Linked DNA regions of Homo sapiens. The protein of the gene in region 1 interacts with the protein of each later gene in a biochemical or structural test. Each region holds a gene or a part of one and is shown on either strand. Other genes may lie near its edges.

Region 1 (5,327 bases):
CAGCTGATTCTTTCAGTTCTTAGTGAGCATCTGTTTATTATTAGCAGGCATCATGAATAGGTGTTAGAGGCAGATGATACATTAAAAATACACGGTAAGTTGAATAATTGGAAAGCTTCATGTTTGTTTTTTCCAAATGATTTTAATGTTTTAAGAAACAGGAGAGGACAGCCTAAAACATCTAATGTTTTCTTTTTTTTTTTGAGATAGAGTTTCACTCTGTCACCCAGGCTGGAATGCAGTGGCATGATCTTGGTTCACTGCAACCTCAACTGCCCATGTTTAAGCGATTCTCCCGCCTCAGCCTCCCAAGTAGCTGGGATTACAGGCACGTGCTACCATGCCCAGCTAATTTTTGTATTTTTAGTAGAGATGGAGTTTCGCCACGTTGGCCAGGCTGGTCTTGAACTCCTGACCTCAGATGATCTGCCTGCCTTGGCCTCCCAAAGTGCTGAGATTATAGGTGTGCGCCACCACGCCCGGCCACATCTAATGTTTTCCGATAACAGTAAATGAAGTCCATCAGTTGCTTACATGGACTCTCCAAACCATCCAATTTATATTTTATATTACATATCACTTGCTTTGTAAAGCAAGCATGGTCGGCTGGGTGCAGTGGCTCATGCCTATAATCCCGGCACTTTGGGAGGCGGGGGCAGGTGGATCATTTAAGGTCAGGAGTTTGAGACCAGCCTAACATGGTGAAACCCTGTCTCTACTAAAAATACAAAAAAGGCCAGGCGCGGTGGCTCATGCCTGTAATCCCAGCACTTTGGGAGGCCGAGGCAGGTGGATCACCTGAGGTCGAGAGTTCAAGACCAGCCTGATCAACATGGTGAAACCCCGTCTCTACTAAAAATACAAAATTAGCCGGGCGTGGTGGCACATGCCTGTAATCCCAGCTACTCCGGAGGCTGAGGCAGGAGAATTGCTTGAACCCGGGAGGCGGAGGCTGTGGTGAGCCAAGATTGCGCCGTTGCACTCCAGCCTGGGCAAAAAGAGTGAAACTCCATCTCAAAAAAAAAAAAAAAAAAAAAACACCCAAAAACAAAAAATTTAGCTGGGCATGGTGGTACATGCCTGTAATCCCAGCTACTCAGGAGGCTGAGGTGGGAGAATCACTTGAAACCAGGAGGCAGAGGGTACAGTGAGCCGAGACTGCACCACTGCACTCCAGCCTAGGCAACAGAGGGAAACTCCACCTCAAACAACAACAACAACAACAACAAAAACCAAACACGGTCTGAAAGACTGAGTCATCAAGTGATGAAATGATGAAAAGCAAATTCAATTTTTAAAAACTGACTTCAAAAAGTCCAGGGATTGAAAGTGAAAACTAACAGATTTTTAATAACTTCTTAGGTTCTTCATGTATATAGCTCTGGATCTCTCCTTGATAGCCCATATTCTGTGTCTGCTTTTTCTCTAGGTCCATGTCAAGTTCTTCCATGTCTGGAGTTCCTCACTGTACAGTGAGTTTCAGGCATCTTTTTTTTTTTTTTTTTTTTGAGACAGGGTCTCACCCAGACGAGTGCAGTGGCGTGATCTCAGCTCACCGCAACCTCCGCCTCCCAGGCTCAAGCAATTCTCCTGCCTCAGCCTCCAGAGTAGCTGGGATTACAGGCGTATGCCATTATCACCTGGCTAACTTTTGTATTTTTAGTAGAGACTGGGTTTCACCATGTTGGCCAGGCTAGCCTTGAACTCAAGACCTCAAATGATCCACCTGTCTCAGCCTCCCAAAGTGCTGGGATTACATGCATGAGCCATCGCGCCCAGCCCAGTATCTTTTCACCTGAGTAAAAGTAGTATCAAATACAAGCCTGATGTCTTATACTACTCAATAGCTGATAACATGATCTAACCTAATTGATACATTGCAGGCTAAATATCTGAAGCACAAGGTTTCACATTCTAAAATATTCCAATTCATTAAGTTTGAAATCACTAAAAATAGATTTACATAAAACAATTCACCTGTACGTAAACTCAAGCAGTATAGTGACTTGTGCCAAAGAAAGGCTTATTGAGGTCTGCTTACCTCACATTTGTCATAATCAAGTAAAACACTAAATCTAAAATCTCCTACTGGAAATATATGTATTTTTTTCCCTTTGGGATAAGTTTCAGGGAAAAGATGAACCCTATGTGTGTTGCCTGGCCCTTTAAATTTTATGGACTTATCCTTAAGAGGACATAAGTGTAATAAAAATCCATAGCTGTTCATGTAATATGACAAATACTAGATACTAATGACAACAGGATCATAGTGGTGAAAATTTTAATTGTTGAGAGGTCCTCAACTAAAAATTTCTGGGAACTTCTGTCCTAGTTATAGTATGTATATCTATAAAAGAAAGGCAGGCCGGGCACTGTGGCTCACTCCAGTAATTCCAGCATTTTGGGAGGACAAAGCAGGCGGACTGCTTGAGCCCAGGAGTTCGAGACCAGCCTGGGCAACATAGAGAACCCCATCTCTACTACAAATACAAAAAATTAGCTGGATGTGGTGGTGCATGCCTATAATCCCAGCTATCTGGGAGGCTGAGGCAAGAGAATCACTGGAACCTGGGAGGCAGAGGTTGCAGAGAGGCAAGATCACATCACTGCACTTCAGCCTGGGCAAGAAAGCAAGACCCTGTCTCCAAAAAAGAAAAAAAAAAAAAGAAAGGCAGGAAGAAACAAACTGGGTGCGGCTCATGCCTGTAATCCCAACACTTTGGGAGGTCAACAGGGGTGGATCGCTTGAGCCCAGGAGTTTGATACTAGCCTGGGCAATATGGCAAAGCTGGGTACAGTGGTGCACGCCTGCAGTCCCAGCTACTTGGGAGGCCAAGGTAGGAGGATCTCCTGACCCTGGGAGGTGGAGGTTGCAGTGAGCTGAGATAGTGCCACTGCACTCCAGCCTGGGCGGCAGAGCAAGACCCTATCTTGAAAAACAATAATACAATCAAACAAAAGAAGAAAGGCAGAAACAGACTCAGAGTTATGTGCTATGGTGTTAGTAGAAAGAAAATATGATAATATGATTTGTTAGGAAATTGAGGCACTGTAAAAGCAGACAAGACAGAAAACAGACAATGGATATCTGTTATTTTTATCATTAAACTTGGATGAAAAACTATTTTGATAGCAAGTTTTGACTAAATAATAACCAGTTCCTCTAAAGAAAATAATTAGACTGGGTGCGGTGGCTCCCGCCTATAATCCCAACACTTTGGGAGGCCAAGGCGGGCAGATCACGAGATCGGGAGTTCGAGACCAGCCTGGCCAATATGGTGAAATCCCGTCTCTACTAAAAATACAAAAACTAGCCAGGTATGGTGGCACGCACCTGTAGTCCCAGCTACTTGGGAGGCCAAGGCAGAAGAATCGCTTGAACCTGAGAGGTGGAGGTTGCAGTGAGCCGAGACTGCGCCACTGCACTCTGGCCTGGGCAACAGAGCGCGACTACATCTCAAAAAAAAGAAAAGAAGAAAATTACCCATTTTTTTTTGAGACGGAGAGTACAGTGGTGCAATCTCAGCTCACTGCAACCTCTGCCTCCTGGTTCAAGAGATTCTCCTGCCTCCGCCTCCTGTGTAGCTGGGATTACAGGAGCGTGCCACCATGGCCGGCTAATTTTTTTGTATTTTTAGTAGAGACAGGGTTTCACCACGTTGGCCCGGCTGGCCTCAAACGCCTGACCTCAAGTGATCCGCCCACCTCAGCCTCCCAAAGTGCTGGGATTACAGGCATGAGCCACCGTGTCCGGCCGAAAATTACTCATTCTTATATGGCAGGCTACCAAACTGCTTACTGTTAAATAATTACATTTTAGATATTCCTCTAACACTGTGAATGGCTGGGATTGATCCTGCCTCACAACTGGATGGAACTTTGGTTAATCTGCATCTGAACCTTATCATTAAGTTAGGTACAAAGACACCCCAATATAAACAGGTTTTCATTATTTTCCCAATTTGTATCCTGTCCCAACTTATGCCCATAAAATCCTACTTTTCACACCGGGCACTGTGGCTCATGCCTGTAATCCGAGCACTTTGGGAGGCTGAGGCGGGCAGATCACTTGAGGTCAGGAGTTTGAGACCAGCCTGGCCAACATGGCGAAACCCTGTCTCTACTGAAAATGAAAAAAAATTAGCCGGGTGTGATGGCGCACACCTGTAATGCCAGCTACACAGGAGGCTGAGGCAGGAGAATCACTTGAACCCAGGAGGTAGAGGTTCCAGTGTGCCAAGATCGCGCCACTGCACTCTCCAGCCTGGGAGACAGAGTAAGACTCTGTCTCAAACAAATAACTTAGCTGGGTGTGGTGGTGCACGCCTGTGGTCCCAGATACTCAGGAGAGTGAGGTGGGAAGATCATATTAGCCCGAGGTCAAGGCTGCAGAGAGCCATGATCGCACGCCACTGCATTCCAGCCTGGGCAACAGAGCAAGACCTCGTCTCAAAAAAAGAATTTACTGTTTTAAAGTGTTTGATTCAGTGGTTTTAACACACCACCATTACCTAATTCCAGAACATTTTCACCACCCCAAAAGGAAACTCCATACCCATCTGTAGTCACTCTCCATTTCCCAAGCCCCCCAACTTGGACAACCACTAGTCTACTTTCTGTCTCTATAGATTTGCCTATTCTGAACATTGCATATAAATGGAATCATAAAATATGTGTCCTCTTCTCATGTCTGGCTTCTTTCACTTATTACAATGTTTTCAAGGTTCACCTATGTTGTAGCATGTATCAGCATTTCATTCCTTTTTATTGCCAAACAATATTCCATTGTATAGAGATACACATTTTATCTACTCTGATTAATGAGCATCTGCAGTCGTTTCCACTTTTTGGCTATTAATAATGCTGTTATCGGTATTTGTGTACAAGTTTTTATATGAGCACGTTTTCAGTTCTCTTGAATATATACCCAATGTGTTCAATGCTAGTCAGTCTTTTAGCTATACATTTTCAACTGTGATAGAAAAAATGAGTAAAAAAGGTAGCTGACTCCCTCCCCACCACCAGACACAATCCTCACTCCCAATCCTTTTCCCAAAAGTAAGCACTGCTAATGTGGTATATATTTTTCTTAAAAAGTAAACACATATGCAACAATAGTATTGCATTTAAGGGCCTTACAGTCATCATCTATTTAATACTCACAAGTCCTGTGGATGTAGGGATTATGGTCAAATTCATTTCCATGACAAAGAACTAAGTCTTAAGTAACTTGTTCCAGGTTACACAACTAGTGAACAGTGGAGCTGAAATTCAAGTCAAGGTAGCCTGACTCTAAAACATGCACCAGGGCCCAGCACTTTGGGAGT
Region 2 (4,141 bases), on another chromosome or scaffold:
GCTAATAGCTTGTATATTTACTTTCAGTCCTCCCCTGCACTGCCCTGATGTACTAGTCTGTTGACTACCATAATTTCCCTAGCCATTCTTCTAAGGTTGAGTAGTTACTTAGTCTTATTTTAGTAGTTATCCCTTCTCTTTCACACCATTCCCCTTCTCCCCAACTCCTACCCCCTATGCCTTCTTAGTTCCCACCCTTACGATATTCTGGCTTATCAGACCCTGTTTTAAACCATAGTGAGTTTGTGCTTTTTTCTTATTTAAATGTATTTTTTAGGGAGTGATATGGAGCTGGACTTGTTAGCAGCAGCTGAAACAGAAAGTGATAGTGAAAGTAACCACAGCAACCAAGATAATGCTAGTGGGCGCAGAAGCGTTGTCACTGCAGCAACTGCTGGTTCAGAAGCAGGTATGTTGCCTTATCCCAACTACTTTCTTGCTTATGCTAAGGCTGTGTGTGTGTATTCAGCGTGGATTGGGTCATACTTTGTGTGATATACGCAAGGGTAGCTAAGCATTTTTATAACTTCATCCTTGTTCTCTGGGTATTAGAAAAGAAAGTATTATTTTAATAACTCTTTCTCCAGCTTTTCTGGTCATTAAATAATGAATGAATTTTAAAGTTTCTTTAAAAGATTTTTATTTTCTTGCCTTTTTTTTTTTTTTTTTTTTTTTTAAATTGGGTCTCATTCTGTCACCAGGCTGGATATTCCAGTGGTGCAGTCAGAGCTCTTTGCAGCCTTGACCTCCTGAGCTCCTACCTCAGCCCCCTGAGTAGCTGGGTCTACTAGGTGCAAGCCACCACATCGGGCTAATTTTTTTTTTTAAAGAGTTGGGATCTTACTGTGTTGCCCAGGCTGGTCTTGAGCTCCTGAGCTCAAGCAGTCCTCCCACCTCAGCCTCCTCAGTTGTTGGGATTATAGGCATGTGCCACCACACCCAGCTAAAAGTTACTTATTCAGGAGGCTGAGGCATACAAATAGCTTGAACCCAGGAGGCAGAGGCTGCAGTGAGCCGACATGGTGCCACTGCAGTCCTGCCTGAGCCACAGAGCTGGGCTTGAAAGTTATTTTCTAATAAAAACTATTTTATGGTAGGTTTTGTGGATTATTGAATACAATCTGGCATTCTGTTTAATATGTATGTTTTCCTGAATGAGGGGGTACATTGTAATTTTAATTATTAAACTCACAATGTTTTTGGTTTTAAAAATAAAAATTTTAGGAGCAAGCAGTGTTCCTGCCTTCTTTTCTGAAGATGATTCTCAATCGAATGACTCAAGTGATTCTGATAGCAGTAGTAGTCAGAGTGACGACATAGAACAGGAGACCTTTATGCTTGATGAGCCATTAGAAAGAACCACAAATAGCTCCCATGCCAATGGTGCTGCCCAAGCTCCCCGTTCAATGCAGTGGGCTGTCCGCAACACCCAGCATCAGCGAGCAGCCAGTACAGCCCCTTCCAGTACATCTACACCAGCAGGCAAGTCTGAAAACTTAGTATTGCTAAGAATACTTAGATAGATTTTTTAAATTATGCATGTTCATCTGGGGATAAAATTAGTTTTATGATAGTTCCTCATTGTTTTGTTGAGTTTCAAATATAAAAAATATGTACATATGATTATAGCAGGGTTTCCCAGTCTTTGCATTATTGCATCTTTGGACTGGGTAATTGTGGGAGGCTGTCTTGTGCATTGTGGGATGTTAGGCAGCATCCCTAGCCTACACCCACTAGATGCCAGTGAAACCCCTCTCACCCTTCTTCCCCTCCCCTTGGCTCCCACAGTTGTGATAACCAAGAATGTCTGTAGATACTGCCAAATGTGTAGCCCCTTTGGCGGGGGGAGGTGGCGTGGGGGTCAGATTTCCCCTGGTTGAGAACTTTATATTAATTCTTGTCCCCTCCATACTCCTCTCCCCAAAATAGTGTGGTTTAGGCAAAGTTTTTTGCTTGGGTACCACAATTGACCATTTAGATTTACGTAAGTATATATAATCCCAGAGAAACACAATTAGCAACTGACATTAGCTCATTGTGGTTGTCCTTTTTCCTTATAGCAAGTTCAGCGGGTTTGATTTATATTGATCCTTCAAACTTACGCCGGAGTGGTACCATCAGTACAAGTGCTGCAGCTGCAGCAGCTGCTTTGGAAGCTAGCAACGCCAGCAGTTACCTAACATCTGCAAGCAGTTTAGCCAGGGCTTACAGCATTGTCATTAGACAAATCTCGGACTTGATGGGCCTTATTCCTAAGTATAATCACCTAGTATACTCTCAGATTCCAGCAGCTGTGAAATTGACTTACCAAGATGCAGTAAACTTACAGGTATGAAACCACTGAAAAGTTTCCCATTCCACTATTTTTTTTTGGCTGTCAATTATGAGAATTCCAGTATTAGGGGAATTAAATGTTAGAAACGTTTACATATTGACATACTGCTGCTGTATCGAATTTAGCTCTATTTGGATAGTTTTAACTATTTTAGTTTGGTCTTCATAGAACTATGTAGAAGAAAAGCTTATTCCCACTTGGAACTGGATGGTCAGTATTATGGATTCTACTGAAGCTCAATTACGTTATGGTTCTGCATTAGCATCTGCTGGTGATCCTGGACATCCAAATCATCCTCTTCACGCTTCTCAGAATTCAGCGAGAAGAGAGAGGATGACTGCGCGAGAAGAAGCTAGCTTACGAACACTTGAAGGCAGACGGTATGAAATTCTTCATATATACAGAACGTCCCCAACTTAAAATGGATCCTCAACTTACAATTTTTTGTTTGTTTGTTTGTTTGTTTTTTTGAGACGGAGTCTCACACTCTTACCCAGGCTGGAGTGCAGTGGTGCCGTCTCGGCTCACTGCAAGCTCCGCCTCCTGGGTTCATGCCATTCTCCTGCCCCAGCCTCCCGAGTAGCTGGGACTACAGGCACTTGCCACCCACGCCCGGCTAATTTTTTGTTTTCTTAGTAGAGACGGGGTTTCACTGTGTTAGCCATGGTGGTCTTGATCTCCTGACCTTGTGATCTGCCCACCCTGGCCTCCCAAAGTGCTGGGATTACAGGCGTGAGCCACAGCGCCCGACCCCCAACTTACATTTTTTTTTTGACTTTGTGATGGGTTTATTGGGGGTATTAAATGCGTTTAGACTTTATGCGTTTATGATGAGTTTATCAGGACATAACCACATCTTCAGTCAAGGAGTATCTATACTTGCATGTTTAGATAGAATCTTTGTATCCTAGAAGGTTAAAGCTTTTTAGTTGCTATTATGTAAGACCTCATCTTACTGTGAAGGGAGAAAGAAATGACTTGCTTGCATTACTTAAATTGTTGAGGCAGAATAGGCTAGTTATCATCCAAGCTGTTTTTAAAAATCCATTCATATCGTAGGAATCTGATACTAAAGCCTTTTTATTTTTGAAGTTATTGGTCTATATCTTTGTCTCATTATCCCCAAGACCTCCCCCTCTCCTCTTAGGAAGTTATTTTGACTATAATTGGTTATGAATGTACTTTGTACTCAGGAGGGGGAAAGTATGTGTGATTACCAGTGCTGCTCTTTTTTTCTCAAATCACATTTCTTTTTTTCTGCCTCCCCTAGTCTGTTGAATTAAAATAAAATATATATCTATGTATTTGTTATGTTCTTTCTATTCAGTTATAAAGTGACCTTTTTCAGGAGTAGGTATCAGCTCAAATATTGAACATCAGAGCAATAGCAGTAATATAGTAAAAGTGCCTCATACCTGAAGTCAAAATCCAAGGATTTGGTTCTGTCTCTACCTCAGGATAAACAACTTTGTTACTCTGGGCAGATCATAAAGTGAGGAAAGACAAAGGTCTAAGAGATTACTTAGAAAGACAGTGATAGGCATCTACAGTAGAGGTAATAGTTACTAAAGTAGGGCAGTGAAGACCAAAAGGAGGGGAGAGAAGCATTGAAATAAAAAACAGAATTTAGGGCCTTGTTGAGGGATTAAGTAGCAGGGGCATCATTTATATTTAAACCTTGATCCTGAGTAACTAATAGGAAAATTAAAGAGAAAAACCTAAGAGTAGTATAATGGACAAACTTGCTTTTGAACATGTGAGAACTGGGGGAAAAAAAATGGTAGAAATGTCAAATGTGCAGAATTG

What was found. The genes of interacting proteins can lie anywhere in the genome.
Region 2: the proteins of PAIP2 (region 1) and UBR5 form a complex in vitro, tested with the Homo sapiens proteins (2 studies listed by BioGRID and IntAct, with this or other methods).

Annotation. Positions count from the first base shown.
Region 1 is NC_000005.10:139,358,117-139,363,443, reverse strand, and holds part of PAIP2 (polyadenylate-binding protein-interacting protein 2), read right to left. Parts: intron 1-5,327. UniProt on the Homo sapiens protein: Acts as a repressor in the regulation of translation initiation of poly(A)-containing mRNAs. Its inhibitory activity on translation is mediated via its action on PABPC1.
Region 2 is NC_000008.11:102,283,701-102,287,841, reverse strand, and holds part of UBR5 (E3 ubiquitin-protein ligase UBR5), read left to right. Parts: intron 1-277; coding exon 278-409; intron 410-1,224; coding exon 1,225-1,482; intron 1,483-2,060; coding exon 2,061-2,329; intron 2,330-2,503; coding exon 2,504-2,715; intron 2,716-4,141. UniProt on the Homo sapiens protein: E3 ubiquitin-protein ligase involved in different protein quality control pathways in the cytoplasm and nucleus. Mainly acts as a ubiquitin chain elongator that extends pre-ubiquitinated substrates.